2 linked regions of the Homo sapiens genome follow. The protein of the gene in region 1 interacts with the protein of each later gene in a pairwise test. Each region holds a gene or a part of one and is shown on either strand. Other genes may lie near its edges.

The links.
Region 2: the proteins of JAG2 (region 1) and CACNA1A interact in a two-hybrid assay, tested with the Homo sapiens proteins (one study listed by BioGRID and IntAct).

What each region holds. Positions count from the first base shown.
Region 1 is NC_000014.9:105,142,270-105,156,727, reverse strand, and holds part of JAG2 (protein jagged-2 isoform a precursor), read left to right. Parts: intron 1-738; coding exon 739-990; intron 991-1,105; coding exon 1,106-1,166; intron 1,167-4,436; coding exon 4,437-4,567; intron 4,568-4,670; coding exon 4,671-4,790; intron 4,791-4,988; coding exon 4,989-5,102; intron 5,103-5,331; coding exon 5,332-5,445; intron 5,446-5,623; coding exon 5,624-5,737; intron 5,738-5,816; coding exon 5,817-5,863; exon of another isoform or gene 5,864-5,950; coding exon 5,951-6,124; intron 6,125-7,407; coding exon 7,408-7,558; intron 7,559-7,638; coding exon 7,639-7,791; intron 7,792-7,869; coding exon 7,870-7,983; intron 7,984-8,288; coding exon 8,289-8,402; intron 8,403-8,498; coding exon 8,499-8,612; intron 8,613-8,839; coding exon 8,840-8,956; intron 8,957-9,200; coding exon 9,201-9,228; intron 9,229-9,316; coding exon 9,317-9,402; intron 9,403-10,003; coding exon 10,004-10,117; intron 10,118-10,227; coding exon 10,228-10,343; intron 10,344-10,754; coding exon 10,755-10,997; and 7 more. UniProt on the Homo sapiens protein: Putative Notch ligand involved in the mediation of Notch signaling. Involved in limb development.
Region 2 is NC_000019.10:13,209,480-13,223,937, forward strand, and holds part of CACNA1A (voltage-dependent P/Q-type calcium channel subunit alpha-1A), read right to left. Parts: intron 5,130-14,458; coding exon 5,022-5,129; intron 4,855-5,021; coding exon 4,754-4,854; intron 3,262-4,753; coding exon 3,152-3,261; intron 3,044-3,151; coding exon 2,905-3,043; intron 2,738-2,904; coding exon 2,624-2,737; intron 1,174-2,623; coding exon 1,138-1,173; intron 20-1,137; coding exon 1-19.

The sequences.
Region 1 (14,458 bases):
TCCCAGGCCTTGGCCCGAGGCGGGAGAGGTGGGGTCTGGAGGACCCGTTCACCTTTTATTGTGCAAAACGTCGAGCCTGTGCCTAAGCGCAGGGACCGGCATCACGGACTTTGCATACCAGCGCCAGCAGCTGTGGTGCCCCTGGCCCCTGGTCTCCTGGTGGCTTACTTAAAGTGAGGCTTAGACAGCGGGTCACGGGACCTATGCCTGTCTTGGGGGCCTGAGGGGAGGCTTGTCTTAAGGTGGGGACGGTAGTGGTGTTTGGCACTTCTGGGAGCAAGTCACAGCGCAGGAGAGGGGAGGGCAACTGAGCACCATGTCCGTGCTGTCGAGGGCTGGACACGGCGCAGGTGGGTGCAGGTGTTGGAGCAGGGCTGCAGGTGGGTGGGCACAGGTGTGGGACGTGAGACTCACGCCCTGGCAGCAGCCGTGCCTTCTCTGTGGAGCCTGTGGTCTCAGCAGCCCTCCCTGCAGGGCCCCTAGCCCCTAGCCGGGCCCCCCGACCCTCTGCGTTTAGGGTGGGAGCGGGGCGCAGGCTTGGTGGCGGGAGGGAGAGGCCTCTCGGGGCCCTGAGCTTTCTGTAGCAGCCTGGCCGGGGGCCCTGCCCTCCGTGTGCTGCTGCCTGCTGTGCCCCGGCCTTGCAGCAGCCGCAGGCTTCTGCCCCGTCCCCGTTGTTCCTGGAGGACCCCTGGCCGGGCTGGTTTCTCTGGCCTGTGCTGACTCTGCCGCCTCCCCAAGAGGAGCTGCTGATCGAGCGAGTGTCGCATGCCGGCATGATCAACCCGGAGGACCGCTGGAAGAGCCTGCACTTCAGCGGCCACGTGGCGCACCTGGAGCTGCAGATCCGCGTGCGCTGCGACGAGAACTACTACAGCGCCACTTGCAACAAGTTCTGCCGGCCCCGCAACGACTTTTTCGGCCACTACACCTGCGACCAGTACGGCAACAAGGCCTGCATGGACGGCTGGATGGGCAAGGAGTGCAAGGAAGGTGAGGGGGCCGCTGGGCTGCGTGGAGGGCAGGGAGGGCCTCGGGCAGGGCCCCGGGCACAGGCCTTGCGGCCAGGCTGGCTGCAGCTGTGCCTCTCGCTCCTCTCTGTTCGCAGCTGTGTGTAAACAAGGGTGTAATTTGCTCCACGGGGGATGCACCGTGCCTGGGGAGTGCAGGTGAGTGTGCCGCCGGCCCGTCTTTGCCCTCCCAACCTTTGCCCTCACGTCCTCACTGGCACACACAGCCTTGCTGTCAGGAGTCGCCCGGAGCTGGCTGGAGGTTGGGCACACAGCTGTGAGAGCCGGGCCCTGAGCTCGGGAGGCTCCTTAGTGCAGTAGGTGCGTGTCTGAGCATGGGATGTGTCTGATGGCGGCAGCCATGTGAGGACAGTGAGGAGAGACTGGGGAGGCTGGCTGGACAGTCACGTCACCGAGGGGCAGAGACCCGGAGGCTGCAAGCCACCCAGAGATGGGGCATGGGCAGAGGACACGGTAACCCTGCCCATGGGGAGGGGGTGGGCGGCGAGCGGCCGGCAAGTGACACCAGCAGGCGAGGGGCGGCAGAGCAGACCAGTGGTGGGAGCTGAGGCCTGCAGGACCAGGGACAGAGGAAGGGGCTGCTGGCAGGTTTGTAGCTGGGCAAGGTGGGTGGAAGGGCTGTGGTAGCTGTTGAGTGGGGAAGCACCAGACGGGAGGCTGTGAGGGGGAGGCCGCTGTGGGGCATGTGGGGGTGGTGGGGGAGGGGCCAGCGGGATGGGGAGGGGGTCAGTGGAAGGGGGAGAGGCGCACGGGTCCTGCAGACATCCTGGGGTGGAGCCCAGGGGTTTGTGGATGGATTTGATCAAGCAGGAAGGGTGTGGAGTCAGGGAGAACCCCAAGCTGCTGAGTAGCAGAGCCATGGTGGCAGGAGGAATGCCACAGAGGAGCAGGCGGGGCCGGGGTTAGCTGGATGTGGAGAGGCGATGCCTGCCCTGTCCCTGGAGACACCCAGAAAGCTCGTGGGAGAGGCCTGGCCTGCGCCACGCGGGGCCTGTGGGGGGTGGCATTCAGGCGGTGACGGGAAAGTGGGGAAGGCAGAGAGGAGGGAGGCCAAGGAGCAAGTCCCGGCTGCCACAGGTCAGGGCGGATGGATGAGGAGTCAGCAAGGGCCTCCACAAGGGAGTGTCCGGGGTCTTACAGCCAAGTCCAGATGGTGGAGGCCTCTGGACCCAGACCAGAGTGTGGGGGATCCAGCCAGGGGGGCTGGCAGCTTTGCCCTAGAGTGGAGCAGAGAAGTCAGCAGGGCAACCAGAGGGGCTGGGGCCCAGGGTCTGGGGTGGGCACGGGCTTCGAGCCGTGGCGCTCACTGTGCGTGAGCAAGCTGGGGAGCCCGAGAGAGGGGCGCGAGCGGGTGGAGAGACAGCAGGTGGAGGTGAGCACCGCCCTCCAGCCAGCCTTGGATTGCAGGGGTCCCAGGACCTCCCTCTGTGGAGTGGGTTTGCCTCCATGGGACGAGGACACTGGGGCACAGAGAGCCTACTGATTTCCCCAGGGTCACACAGCGTGGCGTTTTGGAGAGGAGTCGGGGAGTTTGGGAACCAGCTGAGTTGGGAGCCAAGGTGGGGAGGTGGGTGACCCTTCCACAGGCCCCACGGTTGAGTGGCCTGGAGGGTACAGTGAGGAGCTTTCCCGGCCAGTCCCAGAGCGGGGAGGCAAGCAGGGCTGGGGCCGCCCACCCGGTCACTTGCACACACAGGGATTCCCGGCAGGTTGAGCGAGTCCCAAGTCAGCTCAGAAAGTGCAACAAGGTGGACCTGGTCTGGGCAGATGTAGATGTAGATCTACGGGAGTCGGCCCCACTCACCCTCGCCTGGCCCAGTGTGCATCACACAACCTGGATGGCAGTGCCACCCTCCCTGGATGGCTGCTGGCTGGCAGCTTGAATGTCACACCAAGGCTGGAGGAAGGCAGCAGAGAAGTTGGCCATCCCTGCCCTTTACCCGCAGGAAGATGAGCCGGAGTCTGGGGGGCCTGGTGGGTGGGGGCAGTAGGTGAGCTCCGCCTGCCCCTCTTGCTGGCCCTGTCGGGGAGGCCCAGCTGTTGCTGACAGCCTCGGCTCAGGTTCCAGTGCAGGACGCCCCCCCACCGGATGCTGCGGAGATGGCCATGCCTTCCTGCCGCCGCCTCTCCAGGGCCCTGGGGCTGCTGGCTGGGGAAACCAGGAGGTGGGGGCCTGGTGTGGGCTGCCCTGCCCAGGGTCGAGAGCACGCCCTTGGGACCCACGAGGTCTGGGCTCTGAGCCCGGCTGTGGCCGCTCTCTGGCCGATGACCCAAGGTGTGTCACAGCCCCGCCCTGAGCCTGGGTCTCTGTGTCTGTGGAGGAGGGATTCTAGGCGGGATGTGAGGCCACCCACGCGGACCACTGTGCATGCTGGGCTGGATACTGGAGACACGTTCTTCCCGGCCTCAGTTTCCCCATTTGTGGCAGCTGAACTGGGCTGATAGGCCTTCGGTGCTGGCTGTGTGGCTTGAGGGCGGCTCAGGAAGGGCCGTGGTTCTTTCCTTTTACAAAAATAAAGTGTGGCGGGTGCCGGTGTGGAAGTGACGTGGCCTGGATGACATTCCCGTCCTGCAGGACCGGAGAGTTCTAGGAAGGGCCCCCCGGGAGTCCCGGCAGGGCCTGGATGGCAGCCTGCTGAGCCTTGGGGTCGTTGCAGGCTCTCTCCCCTGACGGAGGCACCCTCAAGTCAGGCCATGTTCTACCCTGGCCACCTGCCCTCTCCTGGGGGACTCCCAAGACAGGACGTTGGCCGATAGCCTGGGGCAGGGCGAGTCCTGGTGGTTGTGTCCTGGGGGGTGCAGCTGGGGGTGCAGCTGGAGCTCCTGCAGAATCAGGAACTACCCTGGGCAGGGCTGGCCCAGGCCAGCCTGTGGGCCTCAGTAGCCCCATCTGTGAGATGGGTACCTTGTGGGACTTTACTGGGAGCGAGCGAAATGACTGCCTTTGAGGTGGGGGCGAGGGCACGTGCTGTGCCCAGGGCCACATGGCCGAGGCAGAGCCAGGAGTGCTCCCCTGCTGCCCGCTGGCCTACCCAGCCCCTGGTGCCTCCCGGCCCTGGCAGCACCTTGTGAGTCCGAGCCGGCATTCTCATCCCCGGGGTCCCGGCAGGGCCTTCCTTTCCTGGTGCCTGCTCTCGGGGCCCAGCTCACGGGTGAATCCCAAAATAGCTCAGGGAGGAGTGACGGGACAGCTGGGGCTGACCGTCGGCAGCCAGCGGCCGGGAATGCCCGTGACAGTGGGGCTGGCCGGCAGGGCTGCAACCCCTGCCTGGCTGGGGCTGCTCCAGTTCAAAGGCCTGAGGCCGCCCGCCGGCCCTGGGTGTGGCGTGGGTGACTGTGCCTGGCTCCCCTGCCACCCTTTCAGGCACCACAGCTCACTGGGTCTTGCGCCCCTCCTCCTTCCCCCAGGTGCAGCTACGGCTGGCAAGGGAGGTTCTGCGATGAGTGTGTCCCCTACCCCGGCTGCGTGCATGGCAGTTGTGTGGAGCCCTGGCAGTGCAACTGTGAGACCAACTGGGGCGGCCTGCTCTGTGACAAAGGTAGTGGTAGGGGGCGGCAGGCCTAATGCTCTGCCATCGAAGTGTGGGTTGTGGGGGAGCGGGGGGCCGGCTTTTCCCCTGAGCATCCCACCCCTGCCCCCAGACCTGAACTACTGTGGCAGCCACCACCCCTGCACCAACGGAGGCACGTGCATCAACGCCGAGCCTGACCAGTACCGCTGCACCTGCCCTGACGGCTACTCGGGCAGGAACTGTGAGAAGGGTACGTGGGGGGCTGGCCACCCAAATTCTGGCCAGGCAGGGACTGGTTCCCTGGGGAGCCGGTCAGGCCCCATCCCTCTGGCGTCCTGTGTGGTGGGCCCCTGACCCCCAGCTTGGGAACCTGTGGGCTTGGGGAGGAGTGCTTGTGGAAAGCTGGGGGCCTGGCTGCCAGCTCTGCCCCCTCCCCGCGGTTCTACAGCTGAGCACGCCTGCACCTCCAACCCGTGTGCCAACGGGGGCTCTTGCCATGAGGTGCCGTCCGGCTTCGAATGCCACTGCCCATCGGGCTGGAGCGGGCCCACCTGTGCCCTTGGTGAGTGTCTGCACGTGAGTAGGGGACTCCTGCCTAGTATCAGTGGGGGTCTGGGAGTGGGGCAACTCGCTGGGGATGGGGTGCAGTGGTCAAGTCCACACGTGTGGCTGCGGCTGGCTTGGCGAGGACAAATGGCAGGAAGACCCAGGCTTGCAGCGCCACCTGCCCATGGGGACCTTATTCCCACGGCTCACACTGCCAGGGCCCCACCTTTCTCCACCCTCTGCAGACATCGATGAGTGTGCTTCGAACCCGTGTGCGGCCGGTGGCACCTGTGTGGACCAGGTGGACGGCTTTGAGTGCATCTGCCCCGAGCAGTGGGTGGGGGCCACCTGCCAGCTGGGTAAGGGCTCCGAGCGAGTGCATGGGAACGTGGGCCGCGCATGCGGGCTGCGGGGGCTGCTGGGGCTGCGGGGGCTGCTGGGGCTGCTGGGGCTGCTGGGCTGCGGGTGCCAGGTGCCCGTGCTGCAGGGGGCAGGCAGGGCCCGAGCCCCACGGCTCCCACCTTGTCTCTTTCACAGACGCCAATGAGTGTGAAGGGAAGCCATGCCTTAACGCTTTTTCTTGCAAAAACCTGATTGGCGGCTATTACTGTGATTGCATCCCGGGCTGGAAGGGCATCAACTGCCATATCAGTCAGTATGGGGGGTGGGCGCCGGCGGGTGGGCCGAGGCACATGGGACCCCGCCTCTGACCCTGCTCCTCTGCCCCCAGACGTCAACGACTGTCGCGGGCAGTGTCAGCATGGGGGCACCTGCAAGGTGAGGCGGGGCCAGGAGGGTGTGTGGCGTGGGTGCTGCGGGGCCGTCAGGGTGCCTGCGGGACGCTCACCTGGCTGGCCCGCCCAGGACCTGGTGAACGGGTACCAGTGTGTGTGCCCACGGGGCTTCGGAGGCCGGCATTGCGAGCTGGAACGAGACGAGTGTGCCAGCAGCCCCTGCCACAGCGGCGGCCTCTGCGAGGACCTGGCCGACGGCTTCCACTGCCACTGCCCCCAGGGCTTCTCCGGGCCTCTCTGTGAGGTGAGGTCTGCCTGGTCACCCTGCCCCACCTGCTGCTCTGGGAGCTGTAGGGCAGGCCTCGTCCCCTGACCATGGGGCCTGAGTGACCCAGGGGTGCTGCAGGGGAAGTTGTCCCCAAGGCGTCCCAGGCTCAGCTCTCCACTGGGTGCCAGGTGGGCAGGCGGGGCTGTCACAGGTCACCAGGCTTGGCCCCCTGTGGCCATTGCTTGTTGTGATGGGTTTCCTGGTGGCCTGGGCTAGGAGCCCCCGGGCTGCTGGCTGCCCAGGCCTATCTGTCCATCTGTGCACTCCCTCGGGACTGGAGGGCAGGGGGCTCTGGTGGGCAGAGCACATGGGGTAGGGTGGGTGCCTGATGGTGGAGAGGTATACACCTGTCATAGGTGAGTCCTGGGTCGGAGTGGGCATCTCTCTCAGGGCTGATGCTCTCGCCTCCCTCTGACCATCTGTTGGTACTGGACCCCCTCCCCCAACCTCCCCTTCCCCCCTGCCTCCAAAGTAACCTGCCTTCCCCCTTCCCCACCACCCCTACCACCCCCTTCCCCACCTCCCCCTTCCCCACCTCCCCCAACCCTGCCTCCCCCCACCCACCTCACTATCACCCCTCCCCTACCTCCCCCAACCCTGCCTCCCCCCACCCACCTCCCTACCACCCCCTTCCCCACCTCCCCCAACCCTGCCTCCCCCCACCCACCTCCCTACCACCCCCTTCCCCACCTCCCCCAACCCTGCCTCCCCATTACCTGCCTCCCTACCACCCCCTCCCCTTACTTCCCCTTTTTCCCTGCCTCCCCCCACCCACCTCCCTACCACCCTCGGCCGCCCACGATCCTGCCCTGGCCTTGGTGCAGAGGATGGGCCTCCTGTCCAGAGGGCTTCTTGGGGCCCAGGGCAGGGGTCTGACCTCAGGACCTGCAAGCATGGCAGTGGCTGGCCCTGGAAAAGACCCACAGTCTTGGCTCTGAGGGTGGCCAGGCAGTGTGTGAGGGGCTCAGGAGCTGTCCTTCCTGCCAGCAGCAGGGGCCAAGGCCACACTCCTCCCGAGGGACAGTGAGGAAGCTGGGCTGCAGTGGAGGTGGGGGTGGGGGCCCACAGGTATCTGCGTTCAGCTAAGGCCTGGGCAGTCTCAGGTGGGCAGGGGTCTTGGGCTCTGGCTGGCACTGTTAGGCCCAGGGCGGAGGGGCCTGGGGGTCCCCAGGGATCTACCTTCGTATGGACAGAGGCCTGGCCTGTGTTCCCGGCCTGGGCCTGGGCCTAGGCTCTCACAGGCACCCCCCACCCTGCAGGTGGATGTCGACCTTTGTGAGCCAAGCCCCTGCCGGAACGGCGCTCGCTGCTATAACCTGGAGGGTGACTATTACTGCGCCTGCCCTGATGACTTTGGTGGCAAGAACTGCTCCGTGCCCCGCGAGCCGTGCCCTGGCGGGGCCTGCAGAGGTGCTGGGTGCGGCATGGGGTGGTGGGGGAGGTGGTGGGGCAGGGGCGGGCCTGACTCCTGACTGTACTGCCTGCCATAGTGATCGATGGCTGCGGGTCAGACGCGGGGCCTGGGATGCCTGGCACAGCAGCCTCCGGCGTGTGTGGCCCCCATGGACGCTGCGTCAGCCAGCCAGGGGGCAACTTTTCCTGCATCTGTGACAGTGGCTTTACTGGCACCTACTGCCATGAGAGTGAGTGGCCACGAACGGCGGGCTGGTGGTGGGGCTGGGCTGGCCTGAGGCCCTGGCTCACCCCGCTCGCCTCTGCAGACATTGACGACTGCCTGGGCCAGCCCTGCCGCAATGGGGGCACATGCATCGATGAGGTGGACGCCTTCCGCTGCTTCTGCCCCAGCGGCTGGGAGGGCGAGCTCTGCGACACCAGTGAGTGTTCCAGCACCCGCCCACACGGCCTGTGCCTCCACCCCTGTGGGCCCCTTATCACCCTGAGATGGACCGCTGTCTGGGTGCGGCAGGCCCCGTACCCAGAAAGGCCTGGCCAGGGGGTGCTGCCACCATGGGGTGGAGTCCCAGGCTGCCCCCATGCCCGAGGCCAGCTCCCCCGGCCCGACGCTCCTCCCCCGCCCCTCTCTGTCCTCACCTGGCCCAGCTCCAGTGCTTCCTCCCCCGGGAAGCCCTCCCTGAGCGCCGGTGACCCCCCGCCCGCTGACCGGCGTCCTCGCCCCCAGATCCCAACGACTGCCTTCCCGATCCCTGCCACAGCCGCGGCCGCTGCTACGACCTGGTCAATGACTTCTACTGTGCGTGCGACGACGGCTGGAAGGGCAAGACCTGCCACTCACGTGAGTGTCCGCAGGCCCTGGCCGCCTGGGGCTGCCCCCAGGACCCTGGCCCTGGCGGTCTGGGGCCTGCCTGCTGAGCGGCCCATGTGCCAACAGGCGAGTTCCAGTGCGATGCCTACACCTGCAGCAACGGTGGCACCTGCTACGACAGCGGCGACACCTTCCGCTGCGCCTGCCCCCCCGGCTGGAAGGGCAGCACCTGCGCCGTCGGTGAGGAGCCCCCGCTGCCTCTGCGACCGCCGGGCATATGCCCTCCCAGGCACCGCTCCCTCGGGCGCGATGGGCCGAGGGGTCTTTTTTGAGGGCCACACCTGCCACCTGCCCCCTGCCCCCTGCCCCCGGGTCTGTCTGCCCTGTCTGGGTTGGGGGCGCGGTATGGAGACCCAGGGCCAGCCCAGGGCCAGGTGAGACGCTCCCTCCTCCTCCTCTCCTTACAGCCAAGAACAGCAGCTGCCTGCCCAACCCCTGTGTGAATGGTGGCACCTGCGTGGGCAGCGGGGCCTCCTTCTCCTGCATCTGCCGGGACGGCTGGGAGGGTCGTACTTGCACTCACAGTGAGTGTGGGAGGGGTGTGGGCGGGGGCCGCTTTCCTCCACCCAGATGACATCCCTGCCCCCGACTCGCCCCCCAGTCCCTTCTGCCAGCCCCTCCCCCTGCTGCCCCTGCCCCCAGCAAAAGGCACCCTCCTTGATGACCCTCCCCAGCCCCACAGCCTGATCACGCCAAGCCAGCCTGGACAGTGCCTGGCACGCTTGGGGGGTGGGTACTGATCCCCTGCGTTCTCTTCTCCCAAACCAGATACCAACGACTGCAACCCTCTGCCTTGGTGAGTGGCACCCTGGGGGCCACAGCAGGGGTGGGTGGGACTTGGCATACCACGGGGGGCCACCTGATGCCCACCCTCTGCTCTGCAGCTACAATGGTGGCATCTGTGTTGACGGCGTCAACTGGTTCCGCTGCGAGTGTGCACCTGGCTTCGCGGGGCCTGACTGCCGCATCAGTGAGTGGCCAGACAGCCCCAGCCCTGGGAGCCCCTCAGCCCAGCCGCGGTGTCAGGAGTCTGGGGACATCAACGTCCACGTCCCTTGAAGGGCAGTGTGGCCACAACTACTTCCTGCCTCTCTTCTGAGCCTCAGTTTCCCCACATGTCTGTGCCCTGTGGGGTTCCTGCTGTATACCCTGCCAAGTGATTAAGTGGGGAGCCCCAGCCTGGGGGACCAGTCCGGGGCCCAGGGAGCTGTGGGGGTTGGAGCGTGCAGCCTGACGTGGGCTCCTCTGTGGCCGCAGGGCTGTTGTCCCTGGGTGTTGGCCCAGCTGTCTGTCCAGCACCCCTTGGCTGGTCCGACGCAGCAGCTGGGGCTAATCCAGGATGGGACAGGCCCACTGCAGAAGCAGACGGAGGAGGGTGCTGTTGGGCCAGGGTCAGGCTGGGCTCAGGAAGGCCTCAGGCAGGCAGCAGCTTGGGCTCGGGGGCAGGGGCTGCTCCTCATTGTCCTGGGGCTTGCGCCTGTGTGCCACTGGCTCCCCGCTGCCCTAGGCCATGCCGGTCCTGCGGTGGGCGTTGGCCTCACTGCACTGAGCAGCGGTGGCTCTCCCTGCAGACATCGACGAGTGCCAGTCCTCGCCCTGTGCCTACGGGGCCACGTGTGTGGATGAGATCAACGGGTATCGCTGTAGCTGCCCACCCGGCCGAGCCGGCCCCCGGTGCCAGGAAGGTAGGCCCCGTGTGATTGCCCTGGGTTGGGGCGGGTTGGGGGGCATGGGTGACACCCAGCCCCGAGGGCCAGATGCCCACTGCTGACCCTCGAGCCCCTTCTCCCCACAGTGATCGGGTTCGGGAGATCCTGCTGGTCCCGGGGCACTCCGTTCCCACACGGAAGCTCCTGGGTGGAAGACTGCAACAGCTGCCGCTGCCTGGATGGCCGCCGTGACTGCAGCAAGGTGAGGGCAGCCCGTGAGCCGCCCTGCCCTACCCGAGGCTGGTGCACGCTGACCCTGGCCACTCTGTGAGATCAGGAGGCGGGTGCTGGGGTCCGGATGGACTGAGAGCCGTCTGCCCTCAGGGACACCCAGGGAGGCGAGAGCTCAGCCAGGCCCCATGCTTCGATGTGCAGTTGGGAAAACAGGCCTGGTCTGGGTCCTGCCTTGCTCCGCCTGCCCTTTCTGATGTCGAGCTTGGCCTGCCTCCCTGGGAGCCCTGGGTAGGGGGTGGGCTGGGCCCTGGGGCTCACAGACTTGGGCGGTGTCCCTCCTTGGCATGGGGCCCGTGCCTGCCTGTGGGTTCTCATCTGTGTGCCTGCATCTGACCCTCCTGTGCGCCTGCGCCTGACCCTCCTGTGCGTGCCTGCCCAGGTGTGGTGCGGATGGAAGCCTTGTCTGCTGGCCGGCCAGCCCGAGGCCCTGAGCGCCCAGTGCCCACTGGGGCAAAGGTGCCTGGAGAAGGCCCCAGGCCAGTGTCTGCGACCACCCTGTGAGGCCTGGGGGGAGTGCGGCGCAGAAGAGCCACCGAGCACCCCCTGCCTGCCACGCTCCGGCCACCTGGACAATAACTGTGCCCGCCTCACCTTGCATTTCAACCGTGACCACGTGCCCCAGGTGAGGGGCCTGGTGGCATCTGAGCTTGCAGAGGCCACACGCCGGCATCTGCTCGTGGCATGGCGAAAGCCTAGCCCCGCAGGGCAGGGAGGCCCTGGTTGGCTGAGCAGAGTCACTCTTGGTCACAGAGAGTGGCCCTGTGGGGTCAGATGAGAGGGGCATTGGGCCTGGTGCTGGGTGGAGGTGGCAGAGGAGGCTGGGAGAGCAGCCAGCTGGGGGTGCCTGTTTGTCCAGCTGCCCTGAGGGCCTGGACTGACGGCGCCATGGCTGCCTGGCCCCAGCTCTTGGGCTGTAGCTCCGTGGGCAGTTTTGCCCTGGCCTAGGAGCCACCTTTGCCTGCTGTGTGCTTGGAGCTGGGCCCCTGTCTCCCAGGAGGGGCTCAGAACTGGAGGAGACCCACTGTACCCCGCCCTGCCTCTCCTTCCCCCACTGGCCTGCAGGTGGAGCTGGGTCCGCCCTGAGGATGGGCGGGTGGGCACCGTCACTCCTGCCTCCTGGTATAGGGCACAGCCGGGTGGGAAGCTGCCCCCCCAGGCCCTTGGCATCCTTGCTGTGCTCTCCTGGGCGGGCTGTAGGGTGTGTCCCACGTGTACCCACAGCGCCAGTCCAGGGATGTAGGTGTCAGGTTCACGGCCCTGCCCTGCCCACGCACTGCCTGTCTCTGCCCAGGGCACCACGGTGGGCGCCATTTGCTCCGGGATCCGCTCCCTGCCAGCCACAAGGGCTGTGGCACGGGACCGCCTGCTGGTGTTGCTTTGCGACCGGGCGTCCTCGGGGGCCAGTGCTGTGGAGGTGGCCGTGGTGAGTGCCCAGTGGGGAGCAGCACCTGGGTGGGCCCTGGGTCCCGTACTATGCAGGTCCTGGCTATGCTGGACAGAGGCTCTGGCGAGGCTAGTCCTGGTGCGGAAGGACTGCGGGCAGGCCTGTCTCCCTGCGGCCCCTCGCTGTCCATGCCGCAGACCCGTGGAACTGCTCCCTGGGCCTGGCCAGCATGAGGGAGATGCAGGGCTGTGGTGTGGAGCCCGCTTCCCCTGCAGCTGCATCCTCGCCCGGTCCCCTGCTCTGTTTTTGTCTCTGTGTCCCTACGTCACAGGCAGCAGGAGAGTCCGTGGGCTTAGTCTGCCCTGGGAGGCCTGCTTTGGGACTGGCACCTGCCCTGGACCTGGGGGGTGTCAGATGTGAATGGATACCAAGGGGGTCGGGTGAGACTGGGGTGGAGACATGCCCGGAGAGGGGAGGGAATGTTCTGGAACATGGTGGGTGGGTGTGCAGAGCAGTGGGTGTGGCCATGGCACAGTGTGGCTGGTGGAGGCCATGGCCAGGCACAGGAAGGACGTGCAGTGTTTTGGTGCCCTGAGGCCGCAGAGGGGGTGGGGGACATGGATGGGTGCTGCTGGGTGATGGAAGGGCAGTAGGGGCAGGGGAAGATGTAAGAAGTGTGCCAGCACAGGTCAGGGCGCCATCAGGGATGTGGTGGAGGCAGGGGCACAGCCCCGGGTTGCTGTGGCCTCGTGAAGGCACTAGGTTTGTGGTGCCCCTGGGGTGTGGCCCATAGGTGGGGGTGGGGGCTGGGAACTGACAAGAAGGGATGGCCATCACGGAGCAGGTGTCAGCGAATGGGGCCACACACCTCCCCAACTCACTGCCTGGTGGCGAGGTCCCCACCGCAGGACCCCGGGCTCTCCTGTGTGCCCGGACGGGGACACCCTCCACCCCTCCACTTCCCCCCACCCCTCACTGCCTGCTGGTGAGGTCCCCACCGCAGGACCCTGGGCTGTCCCGTGCGCCCGGATGGGGACATCCTCCACCCCTCCCCTTCCCCCCACTGCTCGCTGCCTGGTGGTGAGGTCCCCACACCTCAGGACCCTGGGCTCTCCTGTGTGCCCGGATGGGGACAGCCTCCACCCCTCCACTCCTCCCCCCGCTACTCCCCACTCACTGCCTGGTGGTGAAGTCGCCACTGCAGGACCCCGGGCTCTCGTCTCCCGTGCGCCCACCTTGCTCCAGTGTGGCCAGGGCCTCAGTGTTGGGGGCAGGCTGCTGGGAGCCTGGAGCCCTCGAGCCATCCCCACAATGCCGTTCTTTGCCGCAGTCCTTCAGCCCTGCCAGGGACCTGCCTGACAGCAGCCTGATCCAGGGCGCGGCCCACGCCATCGTGGCCGCCATCACCCAGCGGGGGAACAGCTCACTGCTCCTGGCTGTCACCGAGGTCAAGGTGGAGACGGTTGTTACGGGCGGCTCTTCCACAGGTAAGCGCGGGAGGTGGGCCCCTGGGAAGGCACCAGGCAGGCAACTCAGGCATTGGGCACAGAGCCGGCCGATCCTGCCGATCCTGCCAGCCACCAGGAACACAGAAGTCCCTGGCACCTGCTGCCCCAGCCGCCCAGCCCCACAACCTGACCTTCCCAGCCCCCGTCCTGGGACCCTCCCCACGAGCCAGCAACCGGAGGGTGGGGCCCGGCCGCCTGGCCCGCAGGGCCCTCCCAGGCCTGGGTGTGTGGCTAGTGCCCCGCAGGTGCCCAGGCCTCATTGCCCACCGGCTCTTCTCCCCGGTCCCCAGGTCTGCTGGTGCCTGTGCTGTGTGGTGCCTTCAGCGTGCTGTGGCTGGCGTGCGTGGTCCTGTGCGTGTGGTGGACACGCAAGCGCAGGAAAGAGCGGGAGAGGAGCCGGCTGCCGCGGGAGGAGAGCGCCAACAACCAGTGGGCCCCGCTCAACCCCATCCGCAACCCCATTGAGCGGCCGGGGGGCCACAAGGACGTGCTCTACCAGTGCAAGAACTTCACGCCGCCGCCGCGCAGGGCGGACGAGGCGCTGCCCGGGCCGGCCGGCCACGCGGCCGTCAGGGAGGATGAGGAGGACGAGGATCTGGGCCGCGGTGAGGAGGACTCCCTGGAGGCGGAGAAGTTCCTCTCACACAAATTCACCAAAGATCCTGGCCGCTCGCCGGGGAGGCCGGCCCACTGGGCCTCAGGCCCCAAAGTGGACAACCGCGCGGTCAGGAGCATCAATGAGGCCCGCTACGCCGGCAAGGAGTAGGGGCGGCTGCCAGCTGGGCCGGGACCCAGGGCCCTCGGTGGGAGCCATGCCGTCTGCCGGACCCGGAGGCCGAGGCCATGTGCATAGTTTCTTTATTTTGTGTAAAAAAACCACCAAAAACAAAAACCAAATGTTTATTTTCTACGTTTCTTTAACCTTGTATAAATTATTCAGTAACTGTCAGGCTGAAAACAATGGAGTATTCTCGGATAGTTGCTATTTTTGTAAAGTTTCCGTGCGTGGCACTCGCTGTATGAAAGGAGAGAGCAAAGGGTGTCTGCGTCGTCACCAAATCGTAGCGTTTGTTACCAGAGGTTGTGCACTGTTTACAGAATCTTCCTTTTATTCCTCACTCGGGTTTCTCTGTGGCTCCAGGCCAAAGTGCCGGTGAGACCCATGGCTGTGTTGGTGTGGCCCATGGCTGT
Region 2 (14,458 bases), on another chromosome or scaffold:
GGCTGGTGTCTGAGATGGTCTGGGGGAGGGGACAGGCCGGTGGGCTGGGGTCAGCAGCTAGCACCAAGTGGTCCCGGTCCTTCCTGCCCCATTGTGGCAGCCTGGTGGTGGCCTTCGGTGACTGCGGTGTGACCATCCTGGGGCAGGGGCCAGGGGATGCCATGGGGCCTTGGCTCCCCCTGATCAATCAGGGCTCTGGGTGTGGCCAGGCCTCTGAGGGTGGAGCCTGAGGATTCCTCTGTCCCTCAGAGACAGGACTGCTCCTTTTGAGCCCATCCTGGGTTCTGACCAGAAAGATCTGATCCTCACTCTCCAGTCCTGGGGGCCCAGCCACAGTTGGGCAGGCTCAGGCTGGCCAGAGGGAAGCCCTCTCCACATCCAGGGTGCAAACCTGGGAGCCCTGGACTGCCGCACTCATCCCTGCCCCAGCTTGCTCTCCTGGGAGGGTGAGAAGCCTCCGACTGTGGCTGGCTGACCTATGGGCTCAGGACCAGGTGCCCGGCATGGCAGCTTTGGGTCCTCCCGGCTAACGGGGCTGTGCTCGCTGCCCCCACAAGTCTGAGTCCTTCTGGTGAGGCCCAAGCTAGGGAGCTCTGGGTGGGGGTGGGGGATACCCAGGCACTGGAGGCTCTGGGGGCCCACTCTTTTCCCTGGTGCTTCATCCCTGGGTCAAGCCCTGACACACAGGTTTCTCTGCAGCAGGCAGAGGAGGGAAGGAGGGAGATGGGGCAGACGCCCGCCTCCCAGGGTCCAGCCCAGCTGAGCGCTGGTGGCCCTGCTCCAGGTAGGAGCTGCAGGACCAGGGGTTGGTGGTGGTGTCAGGAGAAGAAGCCCCCCAGAAAGAGGTGCAGAGTGGGCCAGGCTCTTGGAGAGCCAGTGTCCTCCGGCGTGGGGGGCCCTGAAGAAAAGGGGGTAGGGGTGAGGATGGGGATGGCCCCGCCCACCAGGGCTTATGGGTGAGGGGCACACACAGGACACCACACACAAGGATTGGGCTCCATGGAGGGGAGAGGGTGCGATTGCCAAAGAAAGGGTGGGGTCCGGGGACGGTGAGAGATGACGGGACTCCCTGGAGGGGGGGTGGGGAGGAAGAGGGGGCCGGAGCCCTGCTGGGCGCTGGGCAGGCGCGGTACATACACTGAGGTTATTCCCACGTGGCCGGCCCCTTCTCCTCTGTCACAGCCCCATGGGATGGTGCACACAGAAAAAACAGAAAGAAGAAAATAAATATAAAAGGCAAGAGGGAGAGTGAGGAGGTGGTGCATGGAGAAGAAGCCAAGGAGGGGAGTGGCACTGGCATCAAGAGAAATCGGAGGGAGAAGGCAGGGAGGAAAAGAAAAGTTAAAGTCCTGGCGGGTGGGTGTCCCAGGCCCCCGGGGCTGGGCGTCCTCTATTCCCATGGGTACAGAGGAGACAGACAGGAGATGCAGACAGACAAATGGCAGAGGCATGGGACCGAAAGACAGGACGGCGCAGCCTCGAGCCCCTGGCCCTGGGCTCTGCCTCATGCGATGCACACCCCAACCCCTGGCTCCGGCCGATGCTCAAAGCTTCCATGTGGTGGCCGTCAGCTGGGCTTGTCCCAACCCTCTCCTGGGGCCCAGCAGCTCGGTCCTGAGGGAGCAGCAGCATGCACGCTGGGTGCTCCCCAACCCACGTTCCCAGCAGCCAGAGGCCAGGCCCTCAGGTGACCCTGGTCCAGCCAGGCACAGCACAGCCTCCTGCCCCGTGCAGACGCCACACACGGCACACGGAAAGCTCGCCACAGCCACACATGCCACGCACCCGGGCCAGGCTCTCACAGCCATGCCCTGTTCTCCTCCAGAGGCGGGCTGCGTGCATGGGCCCCCGCTGTTCAGGCCGGGTGGGCAGCCAGCTATGCCTCTGGGCCCTCTGTCCCATGAGTCCAAGGCAACGGGATCACCTGCAGGTGGGCCTGGCAGCTGGGTGAAGCGGCCACACACAGACACACATCAAGCACACACCCCTGTGCCCCCCAATGACTCCCACAGAGACCAGACAGAAAATACGAGCCCAGCTGCCCCCAGACCCACCCCAGACTCTGCTACTGTATCCTAGGACCTGCCAAGTTCCCATATGCAGACACGTGTGCACGTACATGTGTGCATGTGTGAGTACATGTGCAGTGTGTATATGCCCACGTGCACACACGTGTGTGTATGCAAGCATCTGAGTAGGCGCACAGCTGCACATGTGTGTGCATGTATGTTGAGCATGTGTGTGTGTGTTTGTGTAGGGGTGATCTTCGTGGCAGGTCTCAGCTGGCCCTGTTGAACCCTGCTGCACCCACAAATCTTCCACAACCTCCCCTGTCTGCAGCCTCCAACCAGGGCAGCCAGAGACCATTTTGCAGTGGCCACTGCCCTCTGCCCCAGGGGGAGCACTTTCCTCTCTGTCCTCTGTGAGGGAGGAGGGTCTGCAGGTGCTCCAGGTGTGACCAGGTGGTGGGTGGGGCCTGCAGACTGCTTCAGAGACTGAAGGAGTCCCTACCCAGGCCTGAGTCCGGCAGGGAGGGGATGCACTGGGCTGCTTGTGGGGGGGCCTGGCCCTACCCAGTGCAGAGTGAGGGGTCCAGCCCCAGGGCAGTGGTGAAAGCCCTCACCTGGTTCTCTGCAGGGAGGCGGGGCATGGAGGCAGCCCGGCCCTGGCCTTCCATGGGGAGGTAGTGCTCGCTGTCGGAGTAGCCATCTCTGCCCATCTCTCGCATCTCCACGGACTGCGGAGCAGATGGCAAAGCCAGATGAGCTCTGGGGCCTGACCTCCAGATCCCTGGTGTCTGCAGAGGGAGGGAGCTGCAGGTGTGTGTGTGTGGGGGGCCCAGATCCCTTCCACCTGAACCACCCGGGCCCTGGGAGCCATTGGGGAGTTGGGGGACAGAGGCACCTGAGAGTTAGGCTGGCTGTTGGGCATGTCGGTAGGGGGGCCTTGTTCCGGACTCCATGTGCCCGTCTTCTGGAACATCTCCTGGGCACGCTGGGTCACCCAGGACGGGCTCTCCTTGAGGCCGCTTTCGTGAGCCATCCTGCATGGGGGACAGAGGCCGGGGTAGCAGTGGGCGCTTGGGCAGCTTCCAGAACGTGGGGACCACGGCACCCCCACACTCCACCTCCCTGGCAGGGGTGACACTCACAGGGCTCCTCCTGGGTCCAGCTGGGTGGAGGGGAGGGCGTTCTGGCCAGGTCCCCCTTCCTGCGTTGGGGACGGGGGCTCCATGCGCTGGAACATGAGGGGTGTCCGGTCCTGGGGAATGGGGCAGAGAGCAGTGTGTGGACAAGGGTGGGGTGGTGGGACGGTGGTACCCAGAAGGCATTGCGACATCCCCAGTATACACACACACACACACACACACTCTCTCAGGTCTCATCCATCTAGACCCTTCCAATTCCACGCAGAACTGGACCACTTCTCACTCCTCCACCCAAGTCATAGCCCCAGCCTGGTCCCACGTCCTCATCTCTCACTGCAGGCACCTTCTCCCAGGTCTCCCGCTCCTACCTTCAACCCCACTGTTCCACAAGAGCCACCAGAGGGCGCCCATGAGCACTTGAGTCAGGTCCTATCCCTCCTTTGCTTAGAACCCTCCATGGCTCCCACTTGCTTGGGGAAAAAGCCAGAGTCCTTCCTGCAGCTCCCATGGCCCTGAAGGATCTGCCCTGTCACCTCCTTGCCCTTGTCTCCTCCCTGCTCTTTTCCACCACACTGGCCTCTTTGCTGTTACCCAAACAACCCAGGCACGGTCCAGCCTCAGAGCCTTTGCACTGGCTGTTTCCTCTGCCTGGAACACCCTTCCAGGTATTGCTTAGCTCACTCCCTCTCCCCTTTTCCTTCAAGCCTTTGCTCACATGTCACTTTCTCAGGGAGGCTCCCCAACTACCCATTTCCCACCGCATCCCCTCCTCCCCTGGATACTCCTATCTTCTGGATTCTTCTCCACTTTCCCCCACGACACTTTCTTTCTCTTTGCTGGATGTTGCACGATTCAGTCATTTGCTACCATTGGCATTTCCCCACTTGGAATGTCTGCTCCCTGAGGGCAGGGATTCTGGCCTATTTTCCCCATGGGTGCATCCCCGAGGACTGAGAACAGCGCCCTGCACACAGTAATACTCAATAAGTGTTGGTGGAGCAGCTGAATGAAGAATGAATCCACATGATGTGTCCTTGGCAAGAACTTTTTTTTTTTTTTTTTTTTTTTTTTTTGAGATAGAGTCCTGCTCTTATCACCCGGGCTGGAGTGCAGTGGCTTGATCTTGGCTTGCTGCAACCTCCACCTCCCAGGTTCAAGTGATTCTCCTGCCTCAGCCTCCCAAGTAGCTGGGACCACAGGTGCATGGCGCCACATGCAGCTAATTTTATTTTTTTTTTGTAGAGATATGGGTCTTTCTATGTTGCCCAGACTGGTCTCCCACTCCTGGCCTCAAGTGATCCTCCCATCTTGGCCTCCTAAATAGCTGGGACTACAGGTGTGCACCACCATGCCTGGCTAATGTTTTATTTTGTAGAGATGGAGTCTCACTGTGTTGCCCAGGGTGGTCTCATCCTGGTCTCAAACGATCCCTCTGCCCTGGCCTCTCAAAGCACTGAGATTGCAGGTGTGAGCTGCTGTGCACAGCCCCTACTTTTCAGGGACCTGCCCTGGGGCTCAGCCACCCTCATATTCCAGTTGGTTCCCGTGGTGACATGCAAGCCACTGTCCCCAGCCCAGATGTCCCCAGAGCGGCGAACAGCGCACCTGCTCCTCGCGCATGGCCTGCAGCTTCTTGGCCTTGCTCTGCCGGTAGTACTCCATGATCATCATGGCTGCGTAGATCTTCCCCACGGTGAGGTCCGTGGCTGGGGGCACACACACGGTGAGCTCACCAAGGGCAGGCCTCTTTGGGGCCCTTGTCCTGGGTCCCTGTGTATACCAGCCCAGGCCAACACTCTCCCCAGGCCTCCCCTTTCCCTCCCCCTCCATCTGTCCTGGTGGATTGGATCCCAGGGCTGGGCTCAGCTCTTACACTTGTGAGGTGTGACCAGCAGGTCTAGCGTCTTCTGGGACAGATTGGGCCAAATCGCCATCATCTCCTTCCGCAGCTCAGCGTCCATCTGCTGTTTGTCGGCTCCTCCTGCAATGGGGGTGTAGACAGACCCTGACTGCCTGCCTGGGTGTCAGCTGGACTCTGGGTCAGCTGCAAAGCCATAGGCTCCCGAGAACGAGACCCCAATCTTTCTGGTCCCCATGGGGTCTCCAGTTCCCCAACGGCCTGGCCCAGAGGAGGCCCTGGGCAGTGCTGCTGGAATGACCTTGTGGGCTCTGGTTTTCGGTGGGGCCAGGACCATGGAGCAGCTGTGCAGGAGACAGCCCGGCATGGAGAACAGCTGGGCGACCTGGGTCCCAATCTTGTCTCCCAGTTATCGGCTGCATGACTTAGGTTACTCTACCACTTAGTAACTCAGTTTCTCCATCTGTGAAATGGAGATGATAGCAAGAGTACTTGCCTCACCTGGTTGTTGTGTGTGTGTGTGTGTGTTTTTTTTTTTTTTTTAGACAGAGTCTTGCTCTGTTGCCCAGGCTGGAGTGCAGTGGCACGAGCTTGGCTCACTGCAACCTCCGACTCCTGGGTTCAAGCAATTCTCCTGTCTCAGCTTCCCGAGTAGCTGGGATTACAGACATGCACCACCATGCCTGGCTAATTTTTTGTATTTTTAGTAGAGACGGAGTTTCACCATGTTGGTCAAGCTGGTCTCGAACTCCTAACCTCGGGTGATCCACACGCCTCGGCCTCCCAAAGTGCTGGGATTACAGGCGTAAGCCACCGCGCCTGGCTGGTTGTTTTTTTTTTGTTTTTTTTTTGAGATGGAGTTTCACTCTTGTTGCCCAGGCTGGAGTGCAATGGTGCAATCTCAGCTCACTGCAACCTCTGCCTCCTGGGTTCAAGCGATTCTCCTGCCTCAGCCTCCCGAGTAGCTGGGATTACAGGTGTGCACCACCACGCCCAACTAATTTTGTATTTTTAGTAGAGACGGGGTTTCACCATGTTGGCCAGGCTGGTCTCAAACTCCTGACCTCAGGTGATCCACCCTCCTCAGCCTCCCAAAGTGCTGGCGATTACATGCGTGAGCCACCGCGTCTGGCCTGTTTTTTTTTTTTTTTTGACAGAGTCTCTCTCTGTTCCCAGGCTGAAGTGCAGTCATGTGATCTCGACTCACTGTTACCTCCGCCTCCCAGGTTCAAGAGATTCTCCCGCTTCAGCTTCCTGAGTAGCTGGGACTACAGGCACGCACCACCATGCCTGGCTATCACCTGGTTGTTTGATGATCAAAGTAACGTGCGTGCAGCCTTGGGACAGTGTCTGCCATAGGATTATTACTGCAGTGACCCATCTGTTCAAGGCTGGGACGCCCTGGAGCATCCCCAACAGAGGAAGTTTTGGTTTTGGTTTTATTTTGATTTTTGAGACAGGGTTTTGCTCTGTCGCCCAGGCTAGAGTGCCGTGGCACAAACATAGCTCACTGCAGTCTCGACCTCCTGGGCTCAAGATCCTCCCACCTCAGCCTCCCAAAGTGCTGGAATTACAGATGAAAGCCACTGTGCGTGGCTCAGAGGAGGTCTTTTCCCCTTTCCCAAGTCTCCACTGCCACGGACATGCCCTTGGCCTGCAGCCAGTCCCTCGTCCCTCACCCCAGTCATGGGGTGAGTCATTAAAGCTCTCTGACGGTGTTTCCTGGCCCTCCTACCTGAGTACATGGGGGGGTTCCTCCTGTGGTTGGCAGGGCCATGTGATGAGTCCTTGCTAATGGGGTGTGCACCATGTAATGTGCCACTTTGGGGCCAGAGCATTTATTATTATTTTTATTATTGTTATTATTTTTGAGATGGAGTCTCGCTCTGTCACTCAGGCTGGAGTGCAATGGCATGATCTCGGCTCACTGCAACCTCCACCTTCAGAGTTCAAGCGATTCTCCTACCTCAGCCTCCTGAGTAGCTGGGATTACAGACATCTGCCTGGCTATTTTTATATTTTTGTAGAGACAGGGTTTCACCATGTTGGCCAGGCTGGTCTCGAACTCCTGACCTCAGGTGATCTGCCTGCCTCGGCCTCCCAAAGTGCTGGGATTACAGGCATGAGCCACTGTGCCTGGCCTATTATTTTTTTTAAAAATTTATCTATCTATCTATCTATCTATCTATCTATCTATCTATCTATCTATCTATCATCTATCTATCGATCGACAGGGACTTACTCTGTTGCCCAGGCTGTGGCACAATCTTTGTTCACCGAAGCCTTGAGCTCCTGGGCTCAAGCAATCCACATTCTGACAGTCAGAATGTCACTGTGGGCTGCTATTTGGATATGCTAACTGGGTTTACGTTTAATATGCTAATTGGTTCAGGCAGGTAGTTGGCTCTGCCCTCAATGCCTGGGGTGGGGGGCTTGAAAGAGGATAGGGTCCAGCCTGGTCAACATGGTGAAACCAGTCTCTAGTAAAAATGCAAAAATTAGCTGGGCGTGGTGGCGTGCGCCTGTAATCCCAACTACTCGGGAGGCTGAGGCATGAGAATCGCTTGAACCTGGGAGGTGGAGGCTGCAGTGGTGAGTTGAGACTGCGCCACTGCACTCCAGCCTGGGCGACAGAACGAGACTCCGTCTCAAAACAATACAAAACAAACAAAACCAAAACCAAAATAGAGATTCTTCTGGGCAGAGAGAACAGAGGGGTGGGTGGGAGAGAGAAACAGATGGACAGGGAAGAGAGAGAGAGAGACAGAGACAGAGAGAATGAGATGGACTTGCCCCCTTTCTCCCAGTCTCCAGCAATGAATGGTGACACCATTTTTGAGAATCTGAAGAATGAGGTTAATCTGTACCCCCTTTGCAGCCCCTTAGCCTGCTGGAAAGGAAGCTCAGTGTGCTTAGAAAGTGAGCTGAACTATGAAAAGAAAGCGCGTTATGTTCTCCTGAGACCCGCATCTGCTCAAAGGGCTGCCACTGTTATCACTCTTCCATTGTTGTCCCCACACCCTCTTGACCTTCCGTAACCCCGAGAGCCTGGCTCAGCTGTGGAACTCCAGGATGAGGCCTGGCACCCACTGAGGACAAGAGGTGGAGGGGCTCCTGGCTGAGAAATCTGGGGGATCATTGTCTTCAGGGAACTGAGTGGCATCTGGGGTACAAGTAACAACTGTGACAGCCAAATTCAGAGACATCTCCAGGAGTCTTTGAAACCCTCAGGAAGGGAATCCAGTAGGTGTCATAGAAGCTGGGGTGCTAAGCAGTAAGGACTAGCTCAGTAGGCTAGTGTTGTCCAAACCCTGCACATTCCGATGAAAGGACTGGCCCATTGACTTGCTCCTGGGAGGTGATCTCTAAGCCTTTGAAATGTCCTGCCTGAAGAGTGTCTTTATTTAGCAGGGGGCCTTGGGCCACACTGTATAGTTCATTCTTTTTTTTTTTTTTTTTTTTTTTTAAAAAAAAGAGATAGGGTCTCACTATGTTGCCTAGGCTGGTCTCGAACTCCTGGCCTCAAACGATCCTCCAGCCTCAGCCTCCCAAAGTGCTGGGATTATAGGCATGAGTCACTGTACCCGGCCAATACAGTTCATTCTATTTATTTATTTATTTTGAGATGGTGTTTTTGCTCTATTGCCCAGGCTGGAGTGCAATGGTGCGATCTTGGCTCACTGCAACCTCGGCCTCCTAGTTTCAAGTGATTCTCCTGCCTCAGCTTCCCCAGTAGCTGGGATTACAGCCGCCCGCCGCCACGCCTGGATAATTTTCCATACAGTTCATTCTAACAATGCGATTTATCGTTGGGGTCTTGGGCCACGTGGTATCAGTTTGACCTCTGGAGGGACTGGAGACTGAGTAACTACGTCAGCCCTGCCTATATGACAAACCCTCAATAAAAACCCTGGGGCACCAAGGCTCAGGTGAGCTTCCCTGGTTGGCAGTACACGGTGCGTGTTGTCACACACTGCAGGGAGAATTAAGCGTTGTCTGTGCAACTCCACTGGAGGCAGACAACTGGAAGCTCGCACCTGGTGTCTCCTGGACCCTTCCCCAGATGCCCTTCCTTTGCGCATTTTATGTTTTTGGAATTTGTTTGTTTGTTTGAGACAGAGTCTTGCTCTGTTGCCCAGGCTGGAGTGCAGTGGCGTGATCTTGGCTTAATGTAGCTCTATCTCCTGGGTTGAAAGGATTCTTGTGCCTCAGCCTCTGGAGTAGCTGGGACTACAGGTGTATGCCACCACACCTGGCTAATTTTCTTTTTGGACAGAGTTTTGATCTTGTCACACAGGCTGGAGTGCAATGGCACAGTCTCAGCTCACTGCAACCTCTGCCTCCCAGGGTCAAGCGATTCTCCTGCCTCAGCCTCCTGAGTAGTTGGGATTACAGGGGTCTGGCACCATGCCTAATTTTTGTATTTTTGGTAGAGACGGGGTTTCGCCATGTTGGCCAGGCTGGTCTCAAACTTGTGACCTCAAGTGATCTGCCCGCCTTGCCCTCCCAAAGTGCCAGGATTACAGGCGTAAGCCACCATGCCAGGCCCTTTGCAGATTTTTTTTTTTTTTTTTTTTCTAATAGAGTCTCACTCTGTCCAGCCTGGAGTGAAGTGGCGGGATCTCGGCTCACTGCAACCTCTGCCTCCTGGGCTCAAGTGATTCTCCTACCTTAGCCTTCCAAGTAGCTGGGATTACTGGCGCCAGCCACCACGCCTGGCTAATTTTTGTATTTTTAGTAGAGACAGGGTTTCACCATGTTGGTCAGGCTGGTCTTGAACTCGTGACCTCAAGTGATCTGCCTACCTCGCCCTCCCAAAGTGCTGGGATTACAGGCGTGAGCCACCGTGCCCGGCCCTTTGCAGATTTTAATCTATATTCTTTCACTGTAATAAACTGTGAGTATAAAAACTTTTCTCAGTTCTGAGTTCTTCCAGGGAATCACTGAACCTGTGGGTGGTTTTGGGACCCCTGAACACAGATTCTCAGAGTGCCACAGAAGCTGAGTTACGATGGCATTACATACAAAGAGTGGGGGTGTTGTTAGACCCGTTGTACAAACGAAGGAACTGTGGTAGGCAGAATTCAAAAGCTGCCCTTCTGCCAAGATTCTGTTTATTCAAACACTAATCTAGGGACCATTGCCCAGGCTATGAAGGGACTTTGCAGATATAATTAAAATACCGGAGGCCCGGTGCGGTGGCTCACGCCTGTAATCCCAGCACTTTGGGAGGCCGAGGTGGGCAGATCACGAGGTTGGGAGATCGAGACCATCCTGCTATCATGGTGAAACCCCGTTTCTACTAAAAATACAAAAAATTATCCGGGCGTGGTGGCACGCATCTGTAGTCCCACCTACTTGGGAGGCTGAGGCAGAATCACTTGAACCCGGGAGATGGAGGTTGCAGTGAGCCGAGATTGCGCCACTGCACTCCAGCCTGGGTGACAGAACAAGACTCCGTTTCAAAAAAAAAAAAAAAAAGAAAGAAAATGCTGGGCATGGTGGCTCACTCCTGTAATCCCAGCACTTTGGGAGGCTGAGGCGGGTGGATCACCTGAGGTCAGGAGTTCAAAACCAGCCTGGCCAACCTTGTGAAACCCCATCTCTACTAAAAATACAAAAAAATTTAGCTGGGCGTGGTGGTGGGCACCTGTAATCTCAGCTACTCAGGAGGCTGAGGCAGGAGAATTGCTTGAACCTGGGAGGCGGAGATTGCAGTGAACTGAGATCACACTATTATACTCCAGCCTTGGCAACAAGAGTGAAATTCTGTCTCAAGAAAAAAAAAAAATATCAAGTCAGCTGACCTCAAAATACAGAGATGATCAGGGTAGGCCTGCCCCAATCAGGTGAGCCCTTGAAAAGCACAGTATTGTCTCTGCTGGGTGGCAGATGGGGAAGTCAGAGAGAATGAGAGCACATGGAGGATTACATGCACTTCCAGGAGCAAAAAGCTAAAAAGCCAGTGATAAAACAAGACCTCAGTCCTACAGCCACAAGGACTTCAATTCTGCCAACACCTGAATGAACCTGGAAGTAGATTCTCCCCCAGATCCTCCAGAGAGGAGCCCAGCTTGGCTGACACCTTGATTTCAGCCTCGTGAGACCCTCAGCAGACAGCCCAGTCCAGCTTTTTGGACTTCTGACCTACAGGACTGTGAGCTGACAAATAGGTGTGTCTTAAGCTGCTATGTCTGTGGTCATCATATAGCTCACTGCAGCCTTGACATCCCAGTCCCCAGTGATCCTCCCACTCCAGCCTCCCAAGTAGTTGGGACTACAGGTGCACATCACCACACCTGGCTAATTTTAAAATTTTCTGTAGAGATGGGGTCTCTCTGTGTTGGCCAGGCTGATCTTGAACTCCTGGCCTCAAGTGATCCTCCTGCCTTGGCTTCCCAAAGTGCTGGGATTACAGGTGTGAGCCACTGCTCCCAACTTCCTTGTGCTCTCTTTACCTTCACTTTGTTCCTGGCATTAACAATATCTGTCCTCCACCCCTCCAGTCCCCCACCTTCCCTGCCACTTCCTCCTTGAGTCTTGCCACGTGGCCTTGGCTCTTCCTCCCTTCTTTCCCTCAAGACCCTGGAAGGCACATATGTCTCGAGGCTCAGTCTTCCCTCCTCCTGACTTACTAGTGGTTTCAGCTGGGCTCAGCACCTTCCCATGTGTGGGACTATCCACCTGCTCCTCTCCCACCCACTCCTTTTTTCTGGTCCCATTTGTTTTTTCTTTTCTTTCTTTCTTTCTTTTTTTTTTTTTTTTTGAGACAGAGTCTTGCTGTGTCCCCCAGGCTGGAGTGCAATGGTTTGATCTCGGCTCACTGCAACCTCTGCCTCCCAGGTTCAAGTAATTCTTGTGCTCAGCTTCCCAAGTTGTTGGGATTATAGGTGTGCACCACCATGCCTGGCTAATTTTTGTATTTTTAGTGGAGATGGGGTTTCGCCATGTTGGCCAGGCTGGTCTCAAATTCCTGGCCTCAAGTGATCCACCTTCCTCAGCCTCCCAAAGTGCTGGGATTACAGGCGTGAGCCTCAGGTCCCCGTTTCTTCTGGCAATTGTGCGCCTGTCTCTCTGCCCTGCTGTCCTTAATCAGCTGCCAAATCACATCACATCCCCTTTCGGGCCTCCGAAATGCACTCCAGACAGGGGACCCCTGACCCCTCCGCCAAAGCTGCACTGGTCAAAGTGACCATGATGACCAGTCACTTGTGATCCTTGTCATCCTTGGTCTCTGGGCAGTGCCTGACACGGTTGGTCCCCTTCCTCCTGAAGCCGCCCTTTTAAACATAGAAGCTGCCTCCAGGAGCCCACACTGCCCTGGTCTCTGCCCGCCTCCCTGGCCTCCTCTTCTTCTTTCCCCCTAATGATGGAGAGTGAGCCCTGAGCTAGGTCTTTGGGGGAATTTCTCGGTATTTTTTATTTTTATTTTTATTTTTGAGATGGAGTCTTGCTCTGTCGCCCAGGCTAAAGTGCAGTGATGTGATCTCGGCTCACTGCAATCTCTGCCTCCCGGGTTCAAGTGATTCTTCTGCCTCAGCCTCCCTAGTAACTGGGATTACAGGTACCCGCCACCACACCTGGCTAATTTTTGTATTTTTAGTAGAGACAGGGTTTTGCCATGTTGACCAGGCTGGTCTTGAACTCCTGACCTCAAGTGATCCACCCGCTTCAGCCTCCCAAAGTGCTGGGATTACAGGCACACGCCACGACACCCGGCTAATTTTTGTATTTTTAGTAGAGACAGGGTTTTGCCACGTTGGCCAGGCTGATCTCGAACTCCTGACCTCAAATGATCCACCCACCTCGGCCTCCCAGCGTGCTCAGATTACAGGCGTGAACCACTGTGCCTGGCCTCAACAAAATGCTGAGATTACAGGTGTGAGCCACCATGTCCAGCCTTCTCGGCTTTTTTTTTTTTTTTTTTTCAGATGAAGTCTCACTCTGTCACCCAGGCTGGAGTGCAGTGGCACAAGCTCGGCTCGCTGCAACCTCTGCCTCTCGGGTTCAAGCAATTCTCCTGCCTCAGCCTTCTGAGTAGCAGGGACTACAGGTGCGTGCCACCACACCCAGCTAATTTTTTGTATTTTTAGTAGAGAAGGGGTTTCACCGTGTTACCCAGGATGGTCTCGATTTCTTGACCTCATGATCTGCCCGCCTCGGCCTCCCAAAGTGCTGCTATTACAGGCGTGAGCCAGCGTGCCCGGCCTCAGCTTTTTTTTTTTTTGAGACAGCGTCTTGCTCTGTCATCCAGGCTGGAGTTCAGTGGCGCGATCTTGGCTCACTGCAACCTCTGTCTCCCAGGTTCAAGTGATTCTCCTGCCTCAGCCTCCGGAGTAGCTGGGGTTACAGGCGCCCACCATGACACCCGGCTACTTTTTGTATTTTTGGTAGAGATGGGGTTTCACCATGTTGGCCAGGCTGGTCTTGAACTCCTGACCTCGTGATCCACCCACCTTGGCCTCCCAAAGTGCTGGGATTACAGGCGTAAGCCACTGCGCCCAGCCCCTTCTCAGCTTTAAAAAAAATGTTTTTTTCTTTTTCTTTCTGTTGTTTTGAGCTAGGATCTCGTTCTGTCGCCCAGGCTGGAGTGCAGTGGTGCGATCATGACTCACTGCAGCCTCAAACTCCTGGCTTCAAGCAATACTCTCATCTCTGCCTCCTGAGTAGCTGGGACCACAGGCATATGCCACCATGTCCAGTTAATTTAATTTAATTTAATTTTTGAGACAGAGTCTTGCTCTGTCACCCAGGCTGTAGTGCAGTGGCGTGATCTCGGCTCACTGCAACCTCCGCCTCCCAGGTTCAAGCGATTCTTCTGCCTCATCCTCCCTAGTAGCTGGGACTACAGTACCCACCACCACGTCTGGCTAAATTTTGTATTTTTAGTAGAGACGGGGGTTTCACCACATTGGCCAGGCTGGTCATCCTGACCTCAAGTAATCCACCCACCTTGGCCTCCCAAAGTGCTGAGATTACAGGCGTGAGCCACCACGTCGAGCCTACCCCTAGATCTAAGCTGCCGCCCTGTCTCCACCCAGATGATATCAGCAGCCCCCACACTGGCCTCCTTTCGGTCTCCCATCCCCTCAGTGGCCGGAGGGAACCTGTTCAAATGTGAGTTGGGTCAGGTTCCTCCTCTGCTCTGAACCTGCGTGGCGTGCCCTCACTCAGAAGGTGAGTCAGCTCAATGCCCCGGGTGTCCTGTGTTCACCCCTCTGTCAGGGCCTTTGCCAGTCCTTCTGCCTGGAGCACCTTCCCCCCAGGGATCCATGAGACACTGCCTTACCTCCTCAGTGGCGGCCTCCCCATCCATCTAAAGTGTAAGCTGCTGGGTCCTCCCCTGCTTGGACGGGTCTCTGGCACATTGAAGGAGTGCACTAAATATCTGCCAAATGGGCCGGGTGTGGTGGCTCATGCCTGTAATACCAGCATTTTGGGAGACCAAGGTG